Linked DNA regions of Homo sapiens: all the other regions are linked to region 3. Evidence: fine-mapped expression QTL. A gene starts in region 3. Each other region holds a variant in brackets. All regions are shown on one strand. Distances are between the middles of the regions. Region 1 overlaps BHMT2 (betaine--homocysteine S-methyltransferase 2). Region 2 overlaps JMY (junction mediating and regulatory protein, p53 cofactor). Region 3 holds the start of DMGDH (dimethylglycine dehydrogenase).

What was found. PIP is the estimated chance that this variant, and not a neighbour inherited with it, causes the effect.
Region 1: its variant is the best candidate, but not a certain one, in a credible set for the expression of DMGDH in atrial appendage (GTEx, PIP 0.79).
Region 2: its variant is the best candidate, but not a certain one, in a credible set for the expression of DMGDH in prefrontal cortex (BrainSeq, PIP 0.78).

What each region holds. Positions count from the first base shown.
Region 1 is chr5:79,086,163-79,096,539 of GRCh38, forward strand. BHMT2 (betaine--homocysteine S-methyltransferase 2) reads left to right here. Exons shown (of 8, transcript NM_017614.5): 8 at 2,331-3,907. The coding sequence ends at 2,412. Among named protein-coding and RNA genes, the nearest start is that of BHMT, 20 kb to the right of the region's middle. The variant C/T (reference allele first, on the strand shown) is at 5,111.
Region 2 is chr5:79,313,337-79,323,713 of GRCh38, forward strand. JMY (junction mediating and regulatory protein, p53 cofactor) reads left to right here. Exons shown (of 11, transcript NM_152405.5): 9 at 921-1,515; 10 at 2,664-2,974; 11 at 8,270-10,377. The coding sequence ends at 2,971. It overlaps LOC102724530 (a long non-coding RNA gene), which reads right to left. Exons shown (of 3, transcript XR_001742756.1): 3 at 3,673-4,298. Among named protein-coding and RNA genes, the nearest start is that of JMY, 82 kb to the left of the region's middle. The variant G/C (reference allele first, on the strand shown) is at 4,757.
Region 3 is chr5:79,064,990-79,075,366 of GRCh38, forward strand. It overlaps DMGDH (dimethylglycine dehydrogenase), which reads right to left and starts at 4,685. Exons shown (of 16, transcript NM_013391.3): 1 at 4,531-4,685. The coding sequence starts at 4,631. BHMT2 (betaine--homocysteine S-methyltransferase 2) reads left to right here and starts at 4,778. Exons shown (of 8, transcript NM_017614.5): 1 at 4,778-4,826. The coding sequence starts at 4,794.

The DNA of each region.
Region 1 (10,377 bases), 21 kb after region 3:
TGTCCTCCCCGGTAATTCTCTTGGGCCAGATTTTAGATAGTTCAGGCTGGCTCTCTCACTCTCATTAGGCTCAAAACAGCTTTCACCCTTTCTGCAGACAAGCCATGAGAGTGTGGTCTGACCCCAATTTAACAGCACCCCTTTTGCCCACAAGCAAAGTAGCTGGCCCATTGTTCTCTTGTGGTCCAGATTTTCCAGGGGACAGTCAAATGAGTCATCTGGCTGGTTCGTGGCCACCTCCTTTTAACTTCTGTGCAGTGTCTGTCTTGCAACTCCCCTTGATACCTAAAATCCATCATGCCTTGGTGTTTCCAGTCAAACTTCCAATCTAATACTCTGTTGCAGGAATAATAGAAAATTGTTGCATTTAGAAAAACGTTCACTGCAGAACAAAGTAGTATGCATGGGACCATGGATAAAGAGAAATAATCCTATTTACAAAACTTGAGCTACTTGTTGGAGAATGTTCCAAGCATCAAGGTCAAATGAATTTTCTTCTCTTGCATTCCCGTGGATATATTGTCCAAATCCATGCCATATTTCAATTTGCTTCATACTTGGTCTGACTTTCTTTGTATAGCCTTTGGTTTTCTAGGGATTTCTGATTAACTTCCTTTTCCATTGTTGAAAGAAAAATAACAGGGCTTCACTTTCCCTGAGGTCTTATAATTTCTAAATTATATTGTTTGTTACAGTAAGTCACTTTATTATTGAAGGCATTTTTCTTGGGGCCTCAAGAAAATTACTGTTCTGTTATGGATCATTGTATTTCACACACACACACTCATACTCTGTCTCTCTCTATCTTTCCATATAGATAATCTTTTGTGTATGTATGTGTGTGTGTGTGTGTATATATATATATATATATATATATATACATATGTATGTATATCTGTTGATATAATTCCATCCCCCTTCCATCTTCTAGAACTAGTCACAATCTCTGCTGTCTTCTCTCTGTTCAGTACTCTCATGTACTTCACCCATTTTGTGCTTATTTATTCATTTCAGTGGGATTTGAAAGTCTTCATTTTTGAACTGGAAAAATTTGCCTAATGCAAATTTACTTAGGTTGTAAAAGTAGGCAAGAATCACTTAGCCAAAGCTTTCTTCTAGGAGATATGGATATTTACCAGAGAAGATGTTTTGTATATGTGTCATACTTTTTAAAAAGTATTAAATATAAATATAATTAAAAGGTGAGGAAAACATACTTTGGTGATGATTAAAATAGTTTAAATAAGTGAGTAGTTTATTTAATTATCATCTGCTAGGAATCCTTAAAATTCATTAGCTATTAGAATTAAAACATTATTCTGTAGACCAAAGCAAGAAGACACCCTTTTTACCCTGACTCCCAAACCTACTGATATTCACAGAAATTTATGATTACACAATAAACACTAGATTTCTGACATCTCATCATCCAAAAATATTGATTTATTCATTGTTTTGTAAGTAAAGTGGAAAAAACAATAAAAATATATTCATCAGAAAGGGCTACGACCAGGGACCTTTGTACTCTTCTTCCTTTGTCTAACAACAAGAAACAAATATTGGTAAAGTAATTTGTATTATTTTCTTAGTTACTTTTTGGAGAATTATACTTTGACTCATTACATTAAAAACTGTTCTCGTATTCTTCTCATTACATTAAAATATTGATAGAGTTAGAAGGACTCTGTTAGAAATTTCAGAATAAATATAATTCATAAAAGTATGTGAAATGTAAGGCTGGGCATGGTGGCTTACACCTGTAATCCCAGTACTTTGGGAGGCCAAGGCAGACGGATCACTGGAGCTCAGGAGTTTGAGACTAGCCTGGGCAACATGGGGAGACCCTGTCTCTACTAAAAATACAAAAATTAGCCTGGTGTGGTGGTGCACGCCAGTAGTCCCAGCTACCTGGGGGGCTGAGGCAGGAGGATTGCTTGAATCCAGGAGGTCTAGGCTGCAGTGAGCCAAGATTGTGCCACTGCACTCCAGCCTGGGCAACAGAGCAAGACCCTGTCTCAAAATAAAAAGTATATGAAATTGAAATACGTTGTCTTTTTCTGAAAGGTGGTATGAAACCTAATGATTGTTATTGAAATGTAAGAAAGGCCCCTGGCATTAATGGATATGGACACAGTTTTCCGTCTGTATGTTAAAACAAAAGTTCTGCTTTAGCCTGATTATCCACCAAGTTTTGACTGTGTGTGTGTGTGTGTGTGTGTGTGTGTGTGTGTGTGTGGTTATATACATATACATACATATATACATATATGACATATTGGACTTATAGGTAAGACTTTTAATTAATTAATTATGTATATATTGAAACACAGGGCTCGAAGGGAGTATTGGGAGAATCTGCTGCCAGCTTCAGGCAGACCTTTCTGTCCTTCGCTGTCAAAGCCAGACTTCTAAGGAGTAGTGAAAGAAAACCCTGAAATAATCGAACAGGAAAAAGTTGCCCTCAAGCCTGACCTGGAACCGTTCCTCACCTTCATCCTCACCATGCCCTGCTATCTCCAGCTGCTGAGCAGCTGAGGTGCTGCAGCCCCTTCCCTTCCAGCCCACAAGTGTGTGCATATTGAGCTCCTGCTGTGGTTAAGCACTGCAACAGACTCTACCAGAGATGCAAAGAGAAGCGAGAGAGGCACCTTGTTCTCCAAGAACTTACTGTCCAATCATGCTGTGGTGCATTCCTTTGAAGATCATGAAGAATAGCCAAACTTGTCTTTGAGGGTGAATTTGACACTTTAAAATAATCAGAAGTCACTGAGACCCAAAGCTAGTGAATAATTCAAGTGACTAAGCTAGATACTTGAGGATGATAGAGCAACACTAAACTAAAGCAATGAGTCTGCTTTTTTTAATGATTTATACAATGACTCCAAAGGCAATCCCAAAGAAAAGATGTAAAGAATGTTTTGAGCAATGGTAGCATTATTGAAATAAATGTTTAACTATCCAAAGTGATTACTTTCAAAGATGATTTTTACTTAAAGATATTAGGTCTGGCCAGGCGAAGTGACTCACACCTGCAATCCCAGCACTTTGGGAGGCCGAGGCGGGCGGATCACCTGAGGTCAGCAGTTCAAGACCAGCCTGACCAACATGGTGAAACCCTGTCTCTACCAAAATACAAAAATTAGCCGGGCATGATGGCGGGTGCCTGTAATCCCAGCTACTCGGGAGGCTGAGGCAGGAGAATCGCTTGAACCCAGGAGGCGGAGCTTGCAGTGAGCCGAGATCAGGCCATTGCACTTCAGCCTGGGTGACAGAGTGAGACTCCATCTCAAAAAAAAAAAAAAAAGATATTAGGTCCTAGAATTTTTAAAATGTGTCTTCATAATCATAGGTAGCTAGGTTATAAACTATTTAAAGACAAGATCACGTGATAAGCTTATAATCTTCTCATAATTCCCCTTACTTAGCATTGTGTTAGACATACTAATAGGTGCACAGTGAAATACTTATTGTTGATTGTTTAAAAATAAAGTTTTAGAAAACCTTTTCAAAAGTCAGAGTTTAGGCCAGGGGCACAGGCTGACACCTATAATCCCAGCACTTTGGGAGGCCAGGGCGGGCAGATCACTTGGGTCAAGAGTTCAAGGCCAGCCTGGCCAACATGGCAAAACCCCATCTCTACTAAATAAAATACAAAAATTATCCAGGCATGGTGGTGCATGCCTGTAATCCCAGCTACTTGGAGGCTGAGGCATGAGAATTGCTTGAACCTGGGAGGCAGAGGTTGCAGTGAGCTGAGATCGCCCCACTGCAATCCAGCCTGGGAGACATAATTCAAATCTATTTTGGTCTTATATCTTCTTATGTTTGTGTTATTTCATGTGTGCCAGTTTCTCTTTTTTTCACAACAATTTATCAATTTGTGGCAATAAAAATGATTTACCTTTTATAGTGTTTGAATGTCGAAAATGTCATGAACATTCTTTGGAATAATACTAGCAAATATTTATTACTCACTATGTCGCAGTCTTTGTTCTAAAGATGATCTCATCTACATATACCCCCCAACAGGGATTCAAAATTAGATAGTGTTTAACACAGTAGTTTACAGGTAAGGAAACTGAAGTTTAAGGAGGCTAGGTAACTTGCCTGAGGTCACACAACTAGTAAATGTGAAATTAGTAAATTTGGATTTGAACCCATGGGGCTGGCTCTAGAATCCATGCCCTTAGCTACTGCACTACACGGCATCTGTCATGCACACAGCTGCTGCTTTTTGTCAAAAATCTATCCAAATTTTTCTGTCGCTGGATTCAAAGTATTTTTTATCAACTTTCCTTATTATGAATTAACTCTTCAAACCTGCCATGACTGTTTCTGTAATGTTGACAACCTGGAATTTATTTGATATAGCCACTTTACCCATAATACACAACCCCACCCTGCTGGAAATTAGAAAGTGAATCATTTACTATTATCTCAAGGCCTTTGGGGTCCTTAAGGGTGACTAATCCAAACCACCAATTAAATACCTGAATATCCTCGCCAGCATCTTCATCAGGACCATCCAGTCCCTGTTTGAATCCCTTAAATAGTAACTCACTACCTCTCGAGATCACTTACTCCTTTTTAAGAAACACTTCATTCTCTGGAAAGTTATTCCATGTATTAACTAGAAATCTATTTATTAATGACCCTCACCTGCAGACTTGGAGCACCTAAAGTGCAAATTTATAATTTCTTCCATATAACTCTTTGAAATTTAAAGATAGCTGTATGGCTTTCCTATACTTACTTGTCCTCATTTCCTTCAACTAAAAGGCATAGGCTAAGATGTGCTTTGTCAAATCTACCTGTGTGACACTGTACAGTTACTTAAGCTTTATGCCTTAATTTCCTCATCTGTAAAATGAGGGTAAAATAGAACCATCCTTATTAGGGTGCTATGAGGATTAAATGAGATAAGTTTCTTAGAAACAGTGCATGTCGTATAACAGGCATTCATTGCACATTATATAGTATAATATAATTATGTTGACTTGGTTTCCAATCCCCTCATCCTCATGGTGACTGTCTTCTGGGAACACTCTGGTACCAAAGCCTCTGCTTATTTTTAGTATGTAGTCCTGAACACCACATTCCAGGGGAGGAC[C/T]GTTTACACAATATCTCCTGCTTGCTTCATAGATTTTGTGGAGAGGGCAGTGCAGGACATCATGAGAATAGCAAGAGTGAAGAAGGTACATTAGGAGGGAGAGATGTCTCCACACCGAATCCCTTCCTTGGGTCTGCACCAGCACAAACAAAGGCTTTTATCTAGTTACTGTACAGTTTAGGTGTGCTAAACTGTATAGGAGTTTGAGACCAGCCTGGGTAACATGGCAAAACTCTGTCTCTACAAAAAAATACAAAAATTAGCTGGGCATGGTGGTGCATGCCTATAGTCTCAGCTAGTCAAGAGGCTGAAGCTTGAGCCCGGGAGGTCGAAGCTGCAGTGAGCTGTGATCACACCACTGCACTCCAGCCCGGGTGACAGAGCAAGACCTTGTCTCAAAAAAAAATAATAAAATAAAATAAAATAAAAATAAAAATTAAGAAAGAAAAAAAGATAAATTTTACCATATAAAAACTTTAAATGTATGAACACTCACACAAAAATACTCTAAACAAAGGCAAAGGCAAATAGGAAAACTGTGTAACAGAGGTCAGAAACCACTCTTCCAGTAAAGGGGTCTTGAGCTGCTTTTGTTCAAACCTCCCCGAACCCAAACAGATGTTGTGAGGGGGGCTCGCCTATGTGATTGGCATTCAGAACCCCACTCCACTCCATTTTCTTGGGCTTACAGGTATTATGAGAGGACAGTGTACCCAGCTGGGACCAAGCAAAGCCTTGGGGTCAGCACTAGCATCAACACCATCAGCCATGTTGATGGTCACTGTTTCAGGTGTAGGATATGAGGTTGTGGATCAGGTGCCCCAGGAAGCACAGTGCACCTCGTGGAGATGATGTGAGGGCCAGGTCGTTGGATCTACAGGCACTGACACAGAGCTCGGACAGTTTCTGAGCATTCATATGTTATCCCGTAACATGGTACCTGCCAGCCCCACTTGACTCTTTCCTTCCCAAGAAGCAGGTCCTCTCCCTTGTTGGGCAACTTCTGGGGATTGATGGTCAGCTCCTGTGCGCCCCCACGTGCACTTTGTACTGCCTCCTCCCCACCTCCCTCAATCCCCACAACTATGTAAGGTTTTCAGAAAAACTTTCTTTTCTTCATATGTTATTATAATAGGACATCACTCCAAAAGCAATAGGAAAGTGAAGTCCTCTTTTCTCAATGGCATCCTTATTAGAGGTGGGGAAATATTTGCCTTATATCTTTCCAGTGCTGGGAAAAAAGGGTGGGGGGAACAGAATAACACAATCTGAGTACTAATATCCTGCCACACATATTTGCATACATTTGATAAGCTAAGGGATAGTTTCCTTAATCTATAAATTAGGAAATAATTACCTTAATCCATTAAATATAGAAAAAGATAAACACATTCAAAATTAGGTAAATGCACAGCAAAGTGACGAGATACCTTTTTTCACCTATCATCAACTAGGATCAATAAGTGGATAATATGTCAATGAGGGTGCAGGGGAAAAGACTTTCTCATACATATGCTTTTTGTAGAAGCATAATCTGGTACAAACTATTTGGAAAGTAATTGGTCCATATTTACAAAATTTAGAATTCACATGCCCTTGGATGAGCAATTTTACTTCTAGGAATATAATCTGCAATTATGTTCATATATATGCAAATATGTATGTCTGGAAACCACCTAAATATCCATCAATGACATATTAGTAAATGAATTATGGAACATCTACAGGATGTTAAAGCATGGCATCATTACAAAGAGTACATTATATCAATATGTGCTAAGATGGAAGGATCTCCTCCATATATTGTTAAATGAAAGTATGCTCCCATTGTGTGTACATAGAATATTTCAGGAAGGAATATCTCCCTCCTAGGGGAGAAAGACTGGTGATAGAAAGTGTGGTGTAGGAGGAAGACTTCCTTTTCTCTGATGCCCTTCTTTAGTGTCTACATTTGTTAATATGGTTTGGTATTACTTTTTCTACAAAATAAATTAGTTTTAAAACATATGTCAAGATTTCTGATTCCAAGGGGAAAAATCAGATAACATGAGTTTCCTGTTGTGATACAGAATGGGAAACGCTACATTACCAATGATGTACACCAGCCAGAAGTGCCTGGGGGAATCTAATCAAGCCTTTAGATTTCACTTCCAGTTCAGTGAAATCAAGGGATATAGGAACAAGGTAAACACCACAATCAGGTGAATCCTATATTCTACAGGCTGGCTGGCCTGGTCTTTTCCACAGGTCATTGTGTTGGAGTTGCTCATCTTTATATGACAAACCAATGCAATGCATGGTCCTGGTTGAGACAAACTGGCTATAAGAGGTCTTTTGGGAACAACTGGGCAAATTTGACTAAGGAATCAGGTTAATTTTGGCAATGCAGGAAAATGTTCTTAATTTCTGGAAATAATGCAATTTTTTAAAATGCATACTAAATGTTGATTACTATTTATAATTTATGCTAAATATTTTAGAATATAAAAAGGAGGCGTTTTTAAAAGGCAAGATTTCCACAGGTTTTGATTTTGTAGGGGGAAATTAAGGAGAAGGTAATTGTCTGCCAAAAAAAAACAGTGCAATTAAGAAAAACTGGCTTGAACTAGCTCTTTCCAGTTCTACAGCAGATGTTTGCTGTACTGGAGTTATCAAGAAGAGCAGATGGCCCTCTGATAAACCCTGCTGTGCATAGACTCAGCAATGCAGACCAGCAAATAGCTGGCATGGAAACCAACTGAAAGGGATCGAAGAGATTTGTTGAAACTAGGGGCGAGGGTCAGCTGGAAAAACAATTCCTGCTTTGCAATGATCACAGCCATGATTTGATACTTTATGCAAAATCATAAACAAAGTTAAGCAACTCACTTTGGCTGTACAGTCAGCTGCCTTGAAGGTGAGCACATATTTTATTTAATCAGTAATGAAAATCCTGAAAAGAGTTGCAGAAGGGTGCAATTTTGCCTCATATCAGTGTTGTTTTGTGAAAGGATTTTGAGAAAAGTAGATGGGGCATGCTAGTGGTGCTATTGCTGGCAGTCACGTTTCATTTATAACCTCCATTATTTATCTGGAGCACAGAGGTGGGAAGAGGAGAGAAAGAGAAATAAAAGTTGTATTTTCCATGATACAGGTGCAGATGAGCCCGCCTTTCAAAATAGTGAAGTTGGAGGAGAATCTTTTCATCTGGTGGTGGCAACTCACCTCGAGGGTTCTGTGCTTTCATAACTAATCATGTTCAACCATTTTTTAATTTATTCACTCATTCAATCACTCATTCATTCACTGTTCAAATAACATTTATTTAGTGCTTGACTATGATAGTCACTCTTATATGTTCCATAGTACCCTATATTTATCATTAATAAGTTCAATGTAGTTTTTGCTTATTTGTTTTGGTTTTTTTGTTTGTTTTTGAGACAGAGTCTCACTTTGTTGCTCAGACTGGAGTGCAGTGGCAAGATCTCAGCTCACTGCAGCCTCCGCCTCCTGGGTTCAAGTGATTCTCCTGCCTCAGCCTACTGAGTAGCTGGGACTACAGGCGCCCACCACCACATCTGGCTAATTTTTGTATTTTTCATAGAGATGGGTTTCACCATGTTGGCCAGGCTGGTCTTGAACTCCTGAGCTCAAGCGATCCACCTACCTTGGACTCCCAAAGTGTTGGGATTACAGGCATGACCCACCATGCCCGGCCAGTTCAATGTAGTTTTAATACTCCCTTGGTCATTCCTGTTTACTTGCCTATTCCCTACTCAACAGGACAGTGAAAACATCTTGTTAGTTGTTGTATTCTCAGCATCCGGCACATTATAGAACTCAAAAAAAAATTGTTGAATGAATGAATAAGTAAATGAATGTACAAACCATGCTAAGGTCAAAGGATGCAAAGATGAATAAGCCACTCTCTTATGTTGCCTTGCTGAATCCTCTTGTCAAAAGTATTTTGAAGAACACGCACATGGTGTAGGACAGACCAGCATCAGATTGTGCTCTTTTAAAGAAGCTGAAGTTGAAGAGACTGGAAGGAGGAAATGGGGGGCATCAGAAAGTGAAATGGCAGGCTGTGCAAACAGAATGGCTCAGGGGGCAACCCTGAGAAGGCCCAGACCAGAGTAGATGAGGAAGCATTTAGGACAGAGGAGAGAGTTAGGACTCAGGGTCATTAGCAATAGACAAAAGTGCACATTCAAAAATGCATCATTGGCTGGGCATGGTGGCTTATGCCTGTAATCCTAGCACTTTGGGAGGCTGAAGCATGTGGATCACTTGAGCTCAGGAGTTTGAGACCAGCTTGGGCAACATGGCAAAACCTCATCTCCACCAAAAATAGGAAAAATTAGTGGAGTGTGGTGGCGTGTGCCTGTGGTCCCAGGTACTCAGGAGGCTTAGGTGGGAAGATCGCTTGAGCCCGAGAGGTGGAGGTTGCAGTGAGCCAAGATTGTACCACTGTACTCCAGCCTGGATAACAGAGTGAGACTCTGTCTCAAAAAAAAAAAAAAAAAAAAAAATTAAAATATGGGAACCATTTTAATGTCTTAAAAAAGTAAAACCAACACAAGCATTTTAACTGTTCAACTAAAACATGAGTGTGGGATACACTATTTCAAACCGCTTTTTTTTAAAATTATTATTATTATACTTTGTTTTAGGGTACATGTGCACAACATGCAGGTTTGTTACATATGTATACATGTGCCTTGCTGGTGCGCTGCACCCACTAACTCGTCATCTAGCATTAGGTATATCTCCGAATGCCATCCCTCCCCACTCCCCCCACCCCACAACAGTCCCCAGAGTGTGATGTTCCCCTTCCTGTGTCCATGTGTTCTCATTGTTCAATTCCCACCTATGAGTGAGAATATGAGGTGTTTGGTTTTTTGTTCTTGAGATAGTTTACTGAGAATGATGATTTCCAATTTCATCCATGTCCCTACAAAGGACATGAACTCATCATTTTTTATGGCTGCATAGTATTCCATGGTGTATATGTGCCACAATTTCTTAATCCAGTCTATCATTGTTGGACATTTGGGTTGGTTCCAAGTCTTTGCTATTGTGAATAATGCCACAATAAACATACGTGTGCATGTGTCTTTATAGCAGCATGATTTATACTCCTTTGGGTATATACCCAGTAATGGGATAGCTGGGTCAAATGGTATTTCTAGTTCTAGATCCCTGAGGAATCACCACACTGACTTCCACAATGGTTGAACTAGTTTACAGTCCTACCAACAGTGTAAAAGTGTTCCTATTTCTCCACA
Region 2 (10,377 bases), 250 kb after region 3:
TGAGCCAGGGAGGTCATGGCTGCAGTGAGCTGTGATCATACCACTGCACTCCAGTCTGGGCAACAGAGTGAGACCCTGTCTCAAAAACAAACAAACAAACAAAAGGTCTTACCATGGTAAAATATATATAAGAGTTCTACCAGTAAGTACTGAAAAAAATGTATTTCTCTCTTCATTCTGTCATAAAATGGATATATAGTTGATGGAGCTTTTTAAAAATGCCAAGTAACCTGTTAAAGAATATTTTAATTTTCTCGTGTGTGCATTTGAAAACATAGGAAACTTTTTGCATACCAGTAGCATTTATACATTTGACATCACTTATGTTTTGCATTTTACATGCTATTTGTTTTATACATTTAGTAGTTTTATTCACTAAAAATCTTTTTTTAATCATAATTTTGAATATTTGAATTATCAATCGTGGATTTGATAGGCAAATAATAAATTCATAATTGTTTGTAAGCTATTATTAGGTACTTTCGGATTTTCTGTATAACTTTAAGGGTGAAATAACCAATAAGCCAACATAACATTTTTGAGATGGAATCTCACTCTGTCACTCAGGCTGGAGTGCGGTGGCACAATCTCGGCTCACTGCAACTTCCGCCTCCCGGGTTCAAGCAATTCTCCTGCCTCAGCCTCCTGAGTAGCTGGGACTACAGGTGCCTGCCACCACACCCAGCTAATTTTTGTATTTTTAGTAGTGACGGGGTTTCACCATGTCGGCCAGGCTGGTCTCAAACTCCTGATCTCAGGTGATCCACCCGCCTCGGCCTCCCAAAGTGCTGGGATTACAGGCGTGAGCCACCACACCCGGCCACATAACATCTTTTATTTGAAGGAGAAAATAAATAGGCATGTGCTCATAAATTGTTTCAATAACATTTAACCAGTTCCAATAACTTCTGGTATTTTAGAGGTATCCTGGGCAAGTCATACTTAAATCAACCAGATTACGACTAGCTCATGCAAGAAGAAAAGGTGCAGCAAGTCCTGTTCTCCAAGAGGATCATTGTGACTCTTTACCAAGTGTGTTACAGGTAGAAGAGAAAACTGAAGAGGTGGGAGAAGGAAGAGTCAAGCGTGGGCCATCACAGACAACAGAACCCCAGAGCCTTGTGCAACTTGAAGATACTTCATTAACACAACTTGAAGCCACCTCATTACCTCTCAGTGGTGTTACCTCTGAACTGCCTCCCACTATATCTCTTCCACTTTTGAATAACAACCTCGAACCATGTTCTGTTACCATAAATCCACTCCCATCCCCTCTTCCTCCAACACCACCACCTCCCCCACCTCCTCCCCCTCCCCCACCACCACCACCTCTGCCTGTTGCTAAGGACAGTGGCCCAGAGACACTGGAGAAAGATCTGCCTAGAAAGGAGGGGAATGAGAAGAGGATCCCAAAGTCAGCCAGTGCCCCCTCAGCACACCTCTTTGACAGCAGCCAGCTGGTCAGTGCACGGAAGAAGCTCAGAAAGACTGCTGAAGGTTTGCAGAGGAGGAGAGGTACGTCAACATATTTTCATGGTCCATCTGTTGTATGACATCAGGCATAGTAAAAAACTATATTTTTTGACGTTGCAAAGCTTAAAACACTTTATTTTTGACATTATTTGATAGTAAACAGGTTTTCAAAGTCACACTAGAGGAGAATTCTTAGTGCATAAAGTACACAGAAATGTATGCCTTCTTGGGCTGTTAGGCATGTTTTAAAAACAGATCTTCTAAAGTGATACATTCATGTTTGGTAATGTATAATGGGTGGCTCCTTTTGTGTTAGGGAAAAAGTTTTGATTTTAAACCTGAGATTTTTAAAAAAATACTCATATCAGAAAGGGTAAGATATCTGGTAAGGACTGTCACCACAGGGAAGACATTGGCAGGATCATGTAACATTTGTTCATACATTTGTTGAGGACTTTTGTGTATTTGTATAAAGAAGCAAAGAAGAACAGGGAGTAATCTGTTCAACTTACAATGTGACAGATGTGCCTCAATAAGGTTACTATTTTTTTTTCTAATTTTTTTTGTTAAGAGAGATTCAAGCACAAATAAAATTATTTCTAAAAAGAGCAGAGAATAACCCTTGCCTTTTGCCTTTAAGGAATTTGCATTTTGCATGGGGAGAACATTATATAAATGTTACATATTACTTGTATATTACATTTTAACCTGAAGGACCATTCTATAAAACATTTCTTGATGTAATCTGAGTAGGATTTCACATGTAAAACAACTAAATGAAAAAAGCACAGTCTCCATAATAAACAAAAATTAATTTTTAAAAACAAAATGTGTAACCCCATCACTCTGAATTTGGGTGGAGCAACTGCAATATGGAAATCCTTTGGGAATCACACCCATAATACTACTAAGACCACCTCCCAGTTCCCAATCTGGTCACTTCTCTCATGTAGGAAATGATAGGAATACCAACAGTACCCACCATGGATTGGGTCTTGGGATTTTCTAAAAAGAAGGATAATTAGGATCCCTTGTGTTCTGATCACCTTCTGCACACATTTCATGATCCATTTTGAAGATGGTGTTTCAGCGTCCTGTGCTTTCACAGTTGCGAACGGTAGAGGTTATACAGTTTCATTCTAATTAAGTGCAGTCCTAACTGTAATACTGTTCTGTTTCATTTTCCAAAGTGAGCTCACCCATGGATGAGGTGCTAGCCTCCTTGAAGCGTGGTAGTTTTCATCTGAAAAAGGTTGAACAGCGAACTCTGCCTCCTTTTCCTGATGAAGATGATAGTAATAATATCTTGGCACAAATAAGGAAAGGGGTAAAATTGAAGAAGGTACAGAAGGATGTTTTGAGAGAATCCTTCACACTTCTACCCGATACAGACCCTCTAACACGGAGCATCCATGAAGCTCTTAGAAGAATTAAAGAAGCATCCCCAGAGTCAGAGGACGAAGAGGAGGCTTTACCTTGCACAGACTGGGAGAACTAACAAGTAAACGGCCTTATTGTCTTTAGTAGCATTCAGTAATACAGGTTTTATATCGGATGATGAGGTTTGGGGTATTTTTTATTGAGCCTGAGGCATATCGTTTGTTTTATAACCCAATTTTAGCATGGATCACAAATTTATGAACTTCAGGTTTTACTTAATTCTGTAGTTTCTAGAAACTTAAGATAACTTTTTAATGATTATTGCTATGTAAATACTATTTTTAAAAATGTCCTCCTCATTAAAAATTTCTGCTATACAGCTGTAATTGCAAGTAAAGTGACAGTCTCATTCTTGCCCTAAAAAAACAGAAAAGGGCCTGGCACAGTGGCTCACACCTGTAGTTCTAGCACTTTGGGAGGCTGAAGCAGGCAGATCACTTGAGGTCAGGAGTTCAAGACTAGCCTGGCCAACATGGTGAAACCTCTTCTCTACTAAAAATATAAAAATTAGCCGGGCGTGGTGGCGGGCATCTGTAATCCCAGCTACTCGAGAGGCTGAGGCAAGAGAATCACTTGAACCCAGGAGGCGGAGGTTGCAGTGAGCTGAGATCGTGCCACTGCCCTGGGCAACAGAGTGAGACTCAGTCTTAAAAAAAAAAAAAAAAAAAAAAAAGGCTTTCCAGGTTCAGTGGTTCGCTTCTGTAGTCCCAGTTACTCAGAGGTTGAGGCATGAGGATCTCTTGAGCCCAGGCGTTCAAATCCGGCCTGGGCAATATAGCAATACCCCGTCTGTAAAAAGAAATCAATACGTCAATTTTTTTTTTAATGCAAAGCCTTTTCTGACAAAGTATTTCAGTAACAAACTGTTATGCACACTGAATTTTGATGTCATGTTAGCTGACCTCAAAGGAGTTTTCTAAGATCATTCTGGAAAAATTGTTGCATTGTCTGATTATTTAACTTTCTAAACCCTTAAAAAAAACTACTTATTGTCACAGTTACTGTATTATCTAGACAAATTTGCAGGTATCATTAATATATAAAAATTATCTACATATCTAATGAATACTCCTATACATATTAAGATTCTCTTTGGTTACACATGTAGCATTCTCCTAATATAATAGAGAGCTATAGTCTACTACATTTTAATATACTAATTATAGAGTAATATGGCACAGATTACACCAAATATATAGAAACATTAAAGATAACATGGTATAAATTAAACAGTATATCAAATTTATAATGATGGTAACTGAAATGTTGTAATTTGTATAAAATTTATAGAGTATACAAACATGTTCTATTAATTATTATTCTTTCTTGATGGAATATGTTTCTCTAGGCTTCAAACATTCACCAAAGTAGGGAAGACTTGAGTCCTAGAAGGGAATAAGTAAAGGAATAATTAATTCATGTGTTAGCCCTGTGAATTATTTTTGTTGAATTTCTTTTTTTATTTTAGAGACAGAGTCTCCCTCTGTTGCTCAGGCTGGAGTGCAGTGGCACGTTCATGGCTCACTGCAGCCTCAACCTTCTGGGATCAAGCATCCCAAGTAGCTGGGACTCCAGACACATGCCACCATGCCGGGCTAATTTTTTAATTTCTTTGTAGAGACAGGGTCTCCTTATGGTTGCCCCGATTAGCATAATAATTCTTAAAACATGTTTGATCATAAGAATTAACTTGGGGAGCTTATTAAAAATGGACATTCTGTCCTTGACTTAAGAATTCTGAGTAGAACAACAAAGAAAAAAAATCTTTTTTTGACAGGGTTTCACTCTCTCACCCAGGGTGGAGTGCAGTGACATGATCTCGGCTCGCTGCAAGCTCCACCTC[G/C]TGGGTTCAAGTGAATCTCGTGCCTCAGCCTCCTGAGTAGCTGGGATTACAGGCGACTGCCATGATGCCCGGCTCTTTTTTCTTTTTTTTTTTTGTATTTTTAGTAGAGATAGGGTTTCACCATCTTGGCCAGGCTGGTCTCGAACTCCTGACCTCAAATGATCTACCCACCTCAGCCTCCCAAAGTGCTGGGATTACAGGTGTGAGCCACCATGCCTGGCCCAAAAAAAAGAATTCTGAGTAGATCTAATGTATATGCAAGTACACATCTAGATTTTGAAGACATAATATAAAAATGTAATGTATGTCAGTTTTTAAACAACTGATTACATATTGAAAGATTCTATTAGTTACATTAGGTAAAATATTACTGAAAGCAGTTTCACCTGTTCCTTTGGGTATGGGTTCATTAGGTAAATATTCCTGTAGTACCTCTCCACCAGCATCTGCATCAATCAATAACTTAAAAAGGGTAATATTACATTCACCATGATTCAGCCAACATTCAGTAGTAGCATTATCCTGCTTTTTTTCCTATTATGTATACAGTTACATGTAACAGTCACTTTGTATGACTTATGTTTTTGGATCCCAAAGTAACTTCGAGTTATTTTTGCTTGTACATATGTCCACTATGCTTTGTAAAGGAATATATATATATATATATATAGAGAGAGAGAGAGAGAGAGAGAGAGAGAGAGAGAGAGAGAGGGATGCATATCAGTTTGTGAATGTCTAGACTCTCAGGTATGTCTAACTGGGAATCTTTTCCATAGTGGATATTTGTAGGTTGTCTCCCACTTTACAGTTCTTACTACCATGTGTTGTTTCCTTCTGCTGTAGCTTCTCAGGAAGCTGCTTAAGCTTGTGCCTAAAACTACCATCTTTGCACTGACTAATTCCACAGCTGGACCTTCACATAAATGTGTGTTTAGCTCTTTCATTACAGATGGTCCACAGTGGCCCATTCACAGCACACCAGCAGCTGCTCAAGTCAGCCTATCCTTGTCTGTCTCCTCCCATCCCACCATATCCTGCCTAACCCTAGACATTGCATCAGCATTTTGTATACTCAAGTGGCTGGGATGTTACTCATAGCTTCTGGCTACTAATTTAGCCTTAGTATCAGATGTTAACATGGTGCATGGTGTATACACTTTGAAAATTGCTTAAAACTTTTTTCGGGGGTGTGGGAGACGGCTGATGGCTGGAATATGTGGTACAATGTTGAGAGAGAAACAGTGAAACACTTAGAAAATATATGAGCTTGGAAGTTTGCAGTCTCCCTTTACTAAATGTGTGCTAACCCAGAAGCAAACCATAGACTAGTATGGACTGATTAGGCAGTGATGAAGTAGCTGTGTATCACTACTTTGTGATCATGGAGACTAAAAGGCTGTGAACTTTTTATCTACAAATGGCTAAGAAGGCTTTACCGCAATTTGTATTTCCCATTAATTTATTAGATTCCTTTTTTTTTTCTCTCTCTCTTTTTTTCTTTTCTTCAAGACTGAGTTTCACTCTTGTTGCCCAAGCTGGAGTGCAGTGGTGTGATCTTGACTCACTGCAACCTGTGCCTCGTGATTCAAGAGATTCTCCTGCCTCAGCCTCCGGAGTAGCTGGGATTATAGGCGTGTGTTACCACTCCCAGCTAATTTTTGTATTTTTGTAGAGATGGGGTTTCACCATGTTGGCCAGGCTGGTCTCAAACTCCTGATCTCAGGTGATCCACCTGCTTCTGCCTCCCTAAGTGCTGGGATTACAGGTGTGAGCCACTGTGCCTGGCCAGATTTCTTGATTATAGATTTTGTCATTAATGTACTTATATACTTTTAAGAGCTAATTTCTTGAATATTCATAAAGTAGGTAATGAAGGTCCCTTGTTCTGCCTTGTTCGTTCCCCTCTGAAACTCTTCTCTTTCCAGAGATAGCCATAGTCATGCTCAAGGAAATTTCTTAAAATGTATGTAATTACATAGAGGTTTAAAATAAGTTTCAGGCTGAGTGTGAACTTTAAGTTTCAGGCCTGTAATTCTGCAGTACTTCAGGAGGCTGGGGGTGGGTGGATCACTTGAGCCCAGGAATTCAAGACTAGCCTGGGCAACATGACGAAACACATCTCCACTAAAAATACAAAAAGTAGCTGGGCGTGGTGGCTCACACCTGTAGTCCCAGCTACTTGGGAGGCTGAGGCAGGAGGAAATCTGTCTCAATAAATAAATAAGCTTCTAGTTTGTTTCCTGTGAGAGTCTTTTTTTTTTTTTTGAGATGGAGTCTCACTGTGTCAGCCAGGCTGGAGTGCAGTGGCGCCGTATTTGGCTCGCTGCAATCTCCATCTCCCGGGTTCAATCTGGGATTACAGGCGCACCACCATGCCCAGCTAATTTTTTTGAAGTTTTAGTAGAGAGGGGTTTCACCATGTTGGCCAGACTGGTCTCGAACTCCTGACCTCAACTGATCCACCCTCCTCAGCCTCCCAAAGTGCTGGGATTACAGGCGTGAGCCACTGTGCTAGGCCCCTGTAGGAGTCTTCTAAAGTAACTATAGCAATGTAGTTCAAAGGAAATATAGTTTGAGACATGTAATTTTAAAATGTCCAATAGTCACATCAAAAATGAAAAGGAACATGTGAAACTGATGTTTGTAATATTTTATTTGACACAATGTAGCCAAAGTAGTATCCTTCAACACATAATCAACATTAAAAACTAAGGACATTGCTTTCTATTTCTTTTTTTCACACTAAGTCTTCAAAATTCAGTGTATGTTTTATATATACTAGTAGCACATCTCAGTTTGAATGCTAAGGATCTGATACTTAATGAGAAATGTCCTACCAAAACAGCAAAATTGTATTTAATGGAAAAATAGTACTTACTGTTTTAGATTTTTAAATCAAACTGGATTTAAATCAAACTAGATCAGTCACACTAGACACATATCAAGTGCTCATTAGCCACATGTAGCTACAGTATTAGAAAATGCAGAACTGTATTAAGTTGGTACTTTATTCATGTTCCTGTCAGCTTTTATCTGAAGAGTATGTCTTTTATATAAATGCTCCTGTGCTTTGGGTACGCCCCATAGATCTTAAGCACAACACTTTTCAATAAAATGCCCGGGTGAAGTATCCATTTAAAGATTGGTATTAATCCTGTCCTCTAAATGTTAGTCTAACAAAAACAGTTTCTACTGCATTTTGAAGACACCATTTAGTTGTTCTTACTCTAGTAGCAGTTTATGGGGCAAATAGTTTAGACTGAATTTACCTTTTTAGTATATAGTTTTCATACAGTGTTAGAGTAAAAATAATAAAAATGAAAATCTAATAGTCTTTTAAAAGTGATCAAAATCTGTATTTAGATTATTTTGTTTTCATTTTTACTGCTTTAAGAATACAGTCATGGCCTTTTGTAAAAAATGTCTTTTTTACACTTTTTGAGGGAACGTAAATACACTGTATCTTTAAAGGGTCTTTTTTTTAATGGTCTGTATTATTTTGTTTGTAAACAGGTGACATAACAGAAGAAAAATATCATTCAAGATTGGTTCTGATTCTTTTGGAAAATGACAGTTTAAGCACTTGGTTCCTCAGTTGGATAACATTAGATCCAAAGTTCATTGGTTCAGTGGTGTGAAGAAAGGAAGCACAATTGGCAGGTTATCACTTTCCAGTCGTTCCAATAGATGATGGTTAACATGAATTTTACATGTGCAATGTTCCTGACTGCAATGAAGAAAAGGCCTTCTGGAGATTTCTGTTTTTTAAGCACATTCTCCTTCCATCCACATATTTACATCCTTGTAATGGCCAGTTAAGCTAGGGCTTGCTGTAAGTTGGAAGAACACTGGGTTGACAGAGATCTACTGTGAGCTGTATTGGGACTGCTTTGAGAACCATCTTTCAATGCACTGAAAAGTCATCTGAAAAAATAGCTTCTTCCATATCAGCTTATATTAAATACTGTGACACTCTGAGAAAGTTTATCATCATGATAGCTGTAAGTCAGGCATTAAAATCAAATGGAAATACACCTAAAATGTCCGCATTACTCATTTCCAAAGGATTTTTCATAAAGATGTTCAGCAACATCTGAAAAGCTGCATTTATGGAGATACATCTATTAATATGTTCACAACATGATACATTTAACATGGCATATTTTTAGGAGTCTTATACTTTGTAAGGTTTTGAAGTTTCCGTGCTTTTAAATCACTCTTCATATTTCTTGAATTTATAATAGTTTGAATTTTATGTGCATCCTTGTTTATGGAAGGCAGTACTTTGATAATATTTCAAATTATTTTTATTTTGTTTGAATTATTGCTTGATTGCTATGACTGACATGACTTTCCTATTGAGAATCAAAAATCAAGATTCAATCATAGGGATGCAGATCTTAACTCTTTTCACAAATTACCATTTTAAGTTTTTATTTTTATGCTCCACAGTGAAAAGCATGTGCTCTACAAAGATAGAAAGTAGAGACAAGTCTCCGTGGCTGGCATTTCACCATCTTCACATGCACTGAATGGAATTTTGGGAGAATGCCTTTGTTATAGTCACTAAAATTTTAAACTTATACACAGCTTTAGGTGCTGATTTTGGCTGTGATGGAGTCCTGAAGGACACATTTATATGTTCCAGATTTTCAGCAGGATTGTTGTGGGCTTGAATACATGTAGATCATTGGACTCAGTGTGCAGTACCCTGTACATATAATTCTGCATAAGACAGATCTTGGCCTTTCTGTGGAGGGAGTTAAGAACTAAAATACCAAAAATCACTTTATTTCTTTTAAGACAATTATCTGGCCTAAACCCAGAAAGCAGTACTGGAGCAAAAGCCCAGTGTATATGAATTGGTATTCCTAGAGAAAAAAAGAAATGCTCACACCTTTGTTATTTTAAAGTGTTTTCTTGAAAATAATTAGGGAGAAAATTTTCTGGCAACAGGTTATGTAAGACAACAACTTTTTTTATTATTTCAAAACAAAACAGGCACATGCCACCATGCCCCAGCTAATTTTTATATTTTTTATAGAGACAGGGTTTTGCCATGTTGCCCACGCTGGTCTTGAACTCCTGGACTCAAGCAATCTGCCAGCCTCGGCCTGCTAAAGTGCTAGGATTATAGGCGTGAGCCTCTGTGCCCAGCCTGACAAAATCTTTTATTTATTTAAATGTTAGTAATACGTTTATTGATGAGACTAGGAGCTTCTCTGCAGCATCTTCATAATACATTGGTTTTAGTTCCCACACTATTCCCACATCTTATCTGGGAAGATTAGAAATACAGATGTAATATGGAAGCTTCAACAGCATGGGGGTGGTGATAGTGTCCTATTTGCCCTTGGTAAAATATTAAAGCGTATTTCTTAACCCAAAGAGTGATTGGTTATATGAATATATTTGAAAAAGTTAAAGCAAATTTGCAAACCTTTACAAAATCATGTATCAATTTTATGCTATCCAGTTTTTACGTACCCATGTGTCAACATTTCATATATCCAGTTCTTTGGGTGCTGGTTCACTTTTTTTCATTTATTCAAATTCAGAAAAATACGGACGGATCTAATGTTAAATTAACCAGAAACCCTGGAACATTCATATCTTGAGAG
Region 3 (10,377 bases):
TCCTCCAGCCTTGGCCTCCCAGAGTGCTGGGATTACAGGCATGAGCCACTGTGCCTGGCCTCAAACTTTTTTATTAAAAACTAAGACACAAACACACACATTAGCCTAGGCATACACAGGGTCAGGATCATCAATATCACTGTCTTCACACCTCCAAATCTTGTCCCACTGGAAGGTCTTCAGGGGCAATAACACATACACAGCTGTCATCTCTTTTTCTTTTCTTTTCCTTTTTTTTTTTTTTTTTGAGACAGCGTCTCACTCTGTCACCCAGGCTGGAGTGCAGTGGCGCCATCTTTGCAAATTCCACCCCCAAGGTTGAAGCGATTCTTGTGCCTTAGCCTCCCGAGTAGCTGGGATTACAGACACGTACCACCACGCCCAGCTAATTTTTGTATTTTTAGTGGAGACGGGGTTTCACCATGTTGGCCAGGCTGGTCTTAAACTCCTGACCTCAAGTGATCTACCTGCCTTGGCCTCCCAGAGTGCTGGGATTACAGGCATGAGCCACCATGCCCGGCCAGAGCTGTCATGTCTTATGATAACAATGCCTTCTTCAGGAATACCTCCTGAAGGACCTGTCTGAGCCAATTTTACTGTTAACTTTTTATTTTATAAGTAGGAGTATACTCTAAAATGATGATTTAAAGTATAGTGTAGTAAATACATAAACCAGTAGCACAGTGATTTATTATCATTGTCAAGCATTATGTACTGTATGTAATTGCATGTGCTATAGCTTTATGTGACCGGCAGCACAGTAGGTTTGTTTAACCAGCATCACTACAAACACGTGAGCAATGTGTTGCATATGACATTATGACAGCTATGACATCACTGGGTGATAGGAATTTTTCAGCTCCATTATAATCTTACGGGACCACCATTGTATATGTGGTCCATCATTGACCGAAACATCATTATAAGGCACATGACTATACATATATGTATATTATAATATGTATATTCTATGTGTATACACATTTTAGAGTAAATTGTAGGTATCATACCCAGTTACTTCTAAATATTCTTTTGCTAGTTTGGTAAGAAAAAGGACATTCTCTTACATAACAACAGTACAGTTTTCAAAGTCAAGAAATTTAACATTGATATACTATTATCTATAGTCCATATTTAAATTTAATCAATTATTCCAATCAATTTATAGCTACTTTTTTCCAGTCAGAGATCAAATCCAGGATTCTGTCTCTTTAATCCCCTTTAATTTGGAACAGTTCCTAATACTTCCTTTGTGTTTTATGACCTTCACATTTTCGAAGAGTACTAGCCAGTTATTCTATTTTATTTTTTTTTTAGATGGAGTCTTGCTCTGTTGCCCAGGCTGGAGTGCAGTGGCACGATCTCGGCTCACTGCAAGCTCCACCTCCCAGGTTCATGCCATTCTCCTGCCTCAGCCTCCCAAGTAGCTGGGACTGCAGGCGCCCACCACCACGCCCGGCTAATTTTTTTTTTTTTTTGTATTTTTAGTAGAGACGGGGTTTCTCCATGCTAACCGGGATGGTCTTGATCTCCTGACCTCGTGATCCGCCTGCCTCAGCCTCCCAAAGTGCTGTGATTACAGGTGTGAGCCACCACGCCCGGCCAGTACTAGCCAGTTATTTTATAGAACAGTTCTTACTGTGAGTTTGTCTGGTGTTTCCTCATGATGAGACTTATGTTATGCATTTTTGGCAAAAACATCATGAAACTGATGTTGACTCCTTCCCAGTGTATATGATTAAGAAGCGTATGATGTTGGTTTGTCCTGATATTGGTGTTGTTTCTGTCTGATGACTTGCTTAAGGTGGTGTCTGTCTGATTTGTCTAGTAAAGCTACCATTTTTTCCTTTGTATAAGTAATAATGTGAAGTGTTACTTTGAGACCATGTAAATATCCTGGTCCTTATCAAACTTTTACTGAGTGGCTTTAACATCTATTGATTATTTCCTAACCCCATCATTCCTATTATATTTAATAGTTGGCATTCTACTGTAAGGAAGTAATTTTCTTTCACCCTTGTTTGTTGGTTGTTTATATTAACATGAATTTATGGATATTTATTGTTTTCAGTGGTTTCTAATCCATTACTAGTCATCATTTATTTGAATACCAAATTGTCCTAGATTTGGCCAGCAGGAGGTTCTTTCAGTTGACTCCTGTATGCTTTTGACATGGCTACATAATTCTTAGAGCATGTCCTTATTTCCTGGTGCCACAACATGTTTCAGCAGTTTTGTTTCACCGGTTTTTAGATGACTATTAATGTCTCTTTGTATGCTGTGTGAGAAAAAAATAATGTACATATGACCCAACTACTTTGGACGGAAATCCATTTTTAAACAGACTGGGCATATCTTGTACTTTAGTTGAAACCATTATAGTGGTGACAAAAATAATAATCTTAAAGGTTCTTTTTTGTGTGTTCAAAAGAAAGAATTATTTCTTTCAGGACAGTGGTCAGTTGAAACAACAACAACAAAAGAGAACTTAAGATCAGGAAACCTGGGTTTGAGTCCCCAATCCAACTGAACAGCTATTTTAGAGAAATTTACACAAGGGTCTCAAAGTTTTCTCATTTGCAAAACGGAGCTGTGAAGGTTCTGTTTGGCAACATATGATAAAGCATTATCAAATATATAGTATTTCCTCGGCCCAGCATGCCATAATAGGTTTCAGACTAGGTATAGTGTTTTTGATTATGTGGATAACTATCTTAAAATCCTTCTGAATGTAGTCGAGGATGTTTATAAGAGTATTTGAAATAAAACTTAGGAGCCATGCAAAAAACCCAGGTCAGTTATCTTCTGTATTAGAAATGATAAGCACAAACTGTATGCTTGTTCAACTGCTTTCCAAAATAAAACATTTTTTGATAGTTTGAAATTGGGTATATAAAGAATATGCAATTGAAATAACTCAACTTTTGGGTGTTTTTGTTTTTGTTTGTGAGATGGAATCCCTGTCGCCCAGGCTGGAGTGCAGTGGTGCAATCTCGGTTCTCACTGCAGTCTCCGCCTCCCAGGTTCAAGCGATTCTCCCGCCTCAGCCTCCCAAGCAGCTTGGACTACAGGTGCACACCATGACACCCAGTTAATTTTTGCATTTTTATTAGAGACAGAGTTTCACCATGTTGATCAGGCTGGTCTCAAACTCCTGGCCTCAAGTAATCTGCCCACCTCAGCTTCCCAAAGTGCTGAGATTACAGGCATGAGCCACCACACTCAGCCAAAATATGAATTTTTTGGATAGTCTTGAAATTTGTATCTTATTTATCTAATCAGTTTGTTTGTTAAATTTCCATTTTATTTTGCACTGGATTAAAAACATCATTATTATAAATATTTTTGCATTGCTTTACAATTTACAAAGCACTTTCACATGCATTCTCTTATTTAATATTCACAGCAATCCTGTGAGTTATATAGAGCAAAATTAGTATCCTCATTTTATAGATGAGGAAACTGAACCTCAGAAGTGTAAGGTCACATTCTGTGTAACAGATGGCGCAGGAACTGTGAGTTGGTGGCTACTGCATTCCCAGTACTGGAGACAAACCTAGCACATCACAACACCCAGTAAATATTTGTTGAATGGATAGATGGAACTCAAAAGCAGGTCTTCTGATTCCAGAATTTCAGGTCATAGGACATAAAATAAAATTCGAATCAACTCATAATAATGTTGAGTGATGCTGATAAACAAGCCTTTCCTGGCAACCAGGAATAATCTACAAATATAAGAAGTCGAAAGATGTTCAGCATTGCTCATATTTAAATACAGACCAATCAAAACAAGGACATGCCATTTTTACCTATCAGATTTAGCAAAGATAACAAAATGGGCTATTCTGGGAACCAGGGAAGATGTGGGAAACAGACACACACTGGTGTGCCGCATGCAAACTCTTGCCACCCACTTGGAGAATGTGTTGCTGTCTTTCAATCTTTCAGATGCACGTAACCTTTTCCCTAACAAGTTCACCTTTAAAAACTGTTGCTACCGACTCCCATATGTACTCAAAGATAGATGCCTAAGAATTTTCACATGCACGTTATTTGCAGTAATAAACAACCAAAAACCATTTAAATGTTAATGAATAGACTAACGATAGTGTAGAATATTGACAGGATGGAAAACTATGCAGCCATTAAAAGGAACAAGGCAAGTCAGTGTGTGCTGATATGGAACAATCTCCAAGATATATTGATAATTGTAAAAAGCAAGATGTCAAAAAGCCAAAGGAAAACCTATACTGACCTGTGTTTGCCTATGCGTAGACTGTCTCTGGTTAGATTCAGAAGACACTATTAACAATTGTTCACTGGCCAAGGGGATTGGGGCAGGAGAGACTTTACACGGGGAACCTTTGGATACTGTTTCACTTTATAATTAAAAGATAATTCGAGAAGATATATCAAGGCCTATTTCTTGGAGGCCAGAGCGCTCCTAACCCCTGAGCCTGCCTCAGCCTCTGGCTCCCACCCCCGCAGCCGCCCCGTCGCCTCTGAGCAGGACGGGGCCCCACTCACCCTTCCCGGCCGCAGACAGAGCGCGGGCGCCCGGGGGAGCCCTGCAGCGGGCAGCTCCGCAGCAGGAGGCCCCGCAGCAGCTGCGCGCCGGGACGGAGCATGACTAGGCCGAGGCCGAGGGCGCAGGCGCCTGCTCCGAGGCCAGCGGGCAGCCTGAGGCCGCGGGGCCGGCGGGGCGGGGGTCGGATCCTCCCCCCGGGCTGGGGGCGGGCTCCTAGACGGCCGCGCGCCCGGGAACCCGGCGCCCACAGAGCCGCGGCACCATGGCACCTGCTGGACGCCCGGGGGCCAAGAAGGTGAGTTTCGTCCCCTCGATCCTCGCGGAGCTCCTGGCCGCTGGGCTGCGAGCGACTCCGTTCACACCCGGCGTCCATCCCTAGCCAAGCCCTGGGGCCTCGGCAAAACACTTGGACGGGATGGCCCTGAGCCTCAATTTTCCCCTGTCACGGGTTGGTTAGCGTTTATGGAGCCCTTACTCGGTGCCTGGCGCTGCACAGAGTGCTGTGCTCAAGTTATCTCCTCATCTTCACAATTATCCCCATTTCACAGGTGAGGAAACTGAGGCTCGGCGAGTCAGGCGACTAGCTCAGGGTCACGGGTCCAGCCCCGCGGGGAGCGAGGATCAGAAGTCTAGCTTTCGGACGCATGTCGCGCACACATTTTCTTCCCTCAACCGACCCTCGCCCGCAGCTCTTTGGGCTAATCCGTCCGGGAACTCTTCGGACTGTCCCCTCGCGTTTTGGAAAAGTCAGCAGCCTGGCCAAGCAGCCTGGCCTTGCGAGTCGCCGGCTGGTCTGAAACTAGTCCTGGGCAAGGACGCCCCCAGAGCTGCGGTGCAGGGTGGAGGGTAGGTGGGATTCGCTAGCACCCCTCAACCTCCTCTCACCCGGTGGTCCCCAGCTCCTGGCCCCTTTCCTGGTCTGGTCACCAGATGTTGGCTTTATGCCCAGCCATTTCTACGTCGAGTATGTGTGGGGGTGGGATGAAGGAGTGACTAAGCAAAATTAGGAAGGGCATGAGCTTGGACGAAAGACATCCCCAGGACCCTTCAGAGACCCCCACCCGCTCCAGCCCTGTCATTCAGAATGGGAGGAAGGGAGGAGGGGCAGTTTATGCGTGGAAATGTGCACCACCGAGCTATTTATACTAAAAAGTTAGAAACGACCAAGATACTCTGCAATACGGGATTCTAAATAAATTAAGGTTCATCTACTTAAGTTATTAGACAGTTAAATAACTTAGTATGAGAACCAGCTAAGTGCCTTGGCAATGTTAAGTTGCAAAAGGAAATATATCACAAACTGATCCCAACCATATACAAATATTTATATACACACTGTAAGGAAGGACACAATAATGGTAATAGTTACACAAGATGTGGAATATTGGTTTAAAAAGCATGTTTTAGGATATTTTTTCAGGTTATAAAAGCAAAATGTGAGCATTGAAAGAATACAGTTAATAAAAATAATCAAAGAACATTGTGCTTTTTTCTCTCAACTTTCTCTAATGCTATGTTCATCTTTACAGTTCATATTTTTAAACGTTTTTAAAATGCCCTGTTTTTGTTCAGTGTCTTTGGGGCCTCTACTGTTACAACACCAAGATTATCACACACTAATCCATGTGAATGTGTACCTGGGAGTTAAGGTGTTAATGGGAAGGAACTAATCTCACCTCTCTCCTCAGCTAGCAGGTACATTTTAAGAATTCATTTAATTGCCACAGACAAGACCTCCAATTAGGTCTTAAATCCAAAAGAGCAGTTCTGCTGGCAAATCTAGGAAAAGGGGAAGTTATTTTAGACAGACTGGGTTTTTCTGATCACCTCCTACTACACAGTGAAGTTGATCCCCACTGAGTATGAATAGAGATGTCTTGAAGCCAGATCTTAAACCCAGAGGTCTTACGTAGTGATATCTGCAAAAAGGGGGCATAAATGCACCCTAGAGCTCGCTGTCAGATGCAAGGCAGGTTCACTGCCAAACTGATGGGGAGGAGGGAATGAAAATATAAATGTACTGCAAAATTAATTTACAGGGTTCCTTATTTTACATGTTCCTGTCTTTATAATTTTACAGTTGACTTTAGATCGTACTAGTATAATGGTGAGGAACAACACACACTGGGGCCTATCGAAGGGTGGAGGGTGGAAGGAGGGAGAGGATCAGGAAAAATAACTAATGGATACTAGGCTTAATACCTGGGTGAGGAAATAACCCATATAGCAAACCTCCAATGATGCACATTTACCTGTGTAACAAACCTGCACATCCTGCACATGTACCCCTGAACTTAAAAGTAAAAAAAAAAAAAAAAAAAAAAACTAAAGAAGGGATCATACTGGTATAGTAATTAATTGAGGTAGTTAGAATAGCAGTGAAGGAAGGGCTAAAAGATGCTCTGATCTCAAATCTTGATAACTTAGTTATTTTGCTAATGGCTATGTAGAAAAATGGCAAATTGGCCGGGCACAGTGGCTCACACCTGTAATCCTAGCACTTTGGGAGGCCGAGGCAGGCAGATCATCTAAGGTCAGGAGTTCGAGACCACACTGGACAACATGGTGAAACCCTGTCTCTACTAAAAAATACAAAATTAGCTGGGCATGGTGGCATGCACCTATAATCCCAGCTACTTGCGAGGCTGAGGCAGGAGAATTGCTTGAACCCTGGAGGTGGAGGTTGCAGTGAGCTGAGATCGCGCTACTGCACTCCAGCCTGGGCGACAAGAGTGAAACTCTGTCTCAAAAAAAAAAAGAAAGAAAAGAAAAGAAAAATGGCAAATTTAAAATGGTGGACAAACATCCAGATAACAAATGAAAATGTCCTCCCTTTACTTGGTTTCATAAAGACACAGTCAAAATATATACTACAATTTTCTTAAAACCTACCTAATTGTCTGCTAAAGAGTAACATTTTTTCTTCTTCAGGACAAAAATTCTAGCATATGCAATACATCTGACATTTTCAAAACAGTCCTGTTTATTTGCTAATTCTTGGCATAGTTTCTTAAGTGTCTACTCATTTTAGTTGTTATATGTGGTGGTAGGGATATAGACCAATAAGATATGTCACCTGCCCCCAAGCCTCTTACAGTCAAACTGAGGTGACAAGTAAGTAACCAGATACTGCTGTACAGGGGGATGCATGAATGAAGGATCTGTGAAGTTAAGCAGGACACAAAAGGGGTATAATCACAGGTGAGACTGGGTCAGTGAGCCTGTGCTCTGGTAGCAATGGAAGACAGTTCAGAGTAGGGCTGGAGAGAACTGGAGACCATTTCAATAATCAAATGCAGTGAGGATGGTGGGGCATTTGAGAAATGTGTAATACACTTGGCATAACCCTGTGATAGGTTGGATGTGGGAGGTGAGAAGCTAACCTACAACATCTGAATTCTGTGCCAATGTTTTCCCTCGACAATTGTTTGAGTAAATTTGATTCTTTTTTTTTTTTTTTTGAGACAGAGTCTCACTCTGTTGCCCAGGCTGGAATGCAGTGGCACAATCTCAACTCACTGTAACTTCCAACTCCCAGGTTCAAGCTATTCTCCTGCCTCCACCTCACAAGTAGCTGGGATTACAGGCACCTGCCACCATGCCCAGTTAATTTTTGTATTTTTAGTAGAGATGGAGTTTCACCATGTTGGCCAAGCTAGTCTCAAACTCCTGACCTCAAGTGATCTGCCTGCCTCAGCCTCCCAAAGTGCTGGGATTACAGGCGTGAGCCACCGCGCCTGGCCTAAATTTGATTCTTAACATGGTGAACCTAATGAAGTGTATGGGATTTTCAGGAAAACAGTTTGTACACAGTAACTGTACCTCTGACTTTCTCTTCTGTATTCCTGTGTAGCATTTATTGGTCACATTCTGCTGTGATTATTTGTTGATTTATTGGCCTTCCCCAAAGTAGCCAGACTTTGAGCTTGTGGAGGGCAGAGACCTTGTCTTATTCTGATGTTTATCCCACTTGCCCACAACTATACCTGACATGTGGAAGGTCTCAATAAACGTCCAAAATTTAAGGCCTTTTTTATATTTCAAAAGTACAAATTGAAAAGAGTGAATTGCATTTGATGCAGGGAGGAGAAAGAAAGAGATGAGAATCAGTAAATATTAACATTTCTTCTGCATTCAGCTAAAATTCAGCTTTAGATATAAAATATGGAAAAATAACCAGAGTTGAGAGCTCTCTCTGCCAAAATAGTGTTTATGTTTAACATAGTTCACACAGCTGGGCTCCATTTGCCTGCCCTCCAAGTGCACAGTAAAAAGATGCTGTAGGTAGAGTGACCTGGTATTTACCTCTAGTTAAACCCCTTCTGATGGACCTTCTTGCACTGCAGAGGAAAGAAAACTAACCACTTTGCCAGACTCCTTTGCAGCTAGGATCTGGATAAGAACTAGCATCCCCAATCAGATGCACCAGTATGAGTCTGGGAAGGTGGAAGCATAGCAAATGTGGCCATAGTGCAGCATTCCAGGGTCACGTGAGGGGCAGCTGAGGTCGCTGGAGCAGCCTCCTTCTCCCTATATGACAGCTGTGTCCTGAAGCCAACAGTTCAATAGTGGCTTCTCTTAGTTGTGGCAGAGGGTGCAGCCCCAGCCGGCCAATTCAGTCATGTTTTTCTAGGGGTCATTTCTGGAAGCCCAGTGTAAATTTTTTATGTACCCATTTCTCAATATTAAACTCCTTTCTGCTTAGTCAGAGTGGTTTGTACTTCTGCAGCTAAACTGAACATGGGGAGAAAGCTAGAATAAGCCCCCTCTCTAGTCATGCCATTCGATGGAGATTAAGAGATTATTCAAGCCATATTTGACCTCTCATGTTTGGTTCCATACTGTTAACAGGACTGTCCTGGGAGGCTCTGTGGGAAGATCCTCACGTCTGCTTTAATTTCTGGTTGCTTTTATTAGATCCAGGATTGACCCAGCTAAGGACAAAGACTCCTGTAACCAAGATCAAATTAGCTTCCCTCTTATTCTTTATTGCCTTTATGGCCTTCCAGCCTCCTGGGAAAAGATTGAAGAAAATAGTATATCAAGCAATATGGCCAAAATGTGTTTGGGATCTCTTTGTTCCTTGGTATCCAAGGAAGCTCGCTCCTGACACCTGGGTGGGTCACTTTGTGTGGGGAGTAAGCAAAGGAGAAATAGCAGATGCCAGACACTAGAACAGAAGCAGTTTCTCTCCAAAATCTGTTCCCCCTCCTTCCGAAGGATTAGCGTTGGAGCTGGACACATGGACATTCACTGATGATACTTCCTGGCTTCCCTTGCAGCAAGGTAGAGCCATGTGGCTAAACTCTCACGCAGGAAATGTAAATGTCAATGAGATGAGTCACTTCTAGGTCTGAGCTAAAAACTTTAGGATGAGCTTTGCCACACTGTTTCCTCATCGTTTGAGACAGAGTATGAACGTGACTCTGATCCAGTTTCCCCCATGCTGAGGAGGACAGTACCCTAGGGCTGGGTTGGCAAACGCTTTCTGTAAAGGGTCAGATAGTAATTATTTTTAGCCTTGGGGGCCATACAGTCTCAGTGGTAACTACTCAACTCTGCTACTGTAGTGGAAAAGTGGCCATTAGACAATATGTAAATCAATGGGCAGGGTTTTACCTAAGACTGTTTTTACAAAAACAGGTGATGTGCCAGATTTGGTCTGTGGGCTGTCATGTGCTGACCCCTGCCGTAGGGAATGGCAAAGCAATAAGATAAAAGGACTGTGCAATTTGGTGCACACTCTGTAAAAAAGAGTCCCCCACAAACAGTGGCTTTCCTCTTACAGAGGAAAAAGAAACTACTTTTATTTAAAGCCACTGTTGTGGGGGCCTCTTTTTTACACA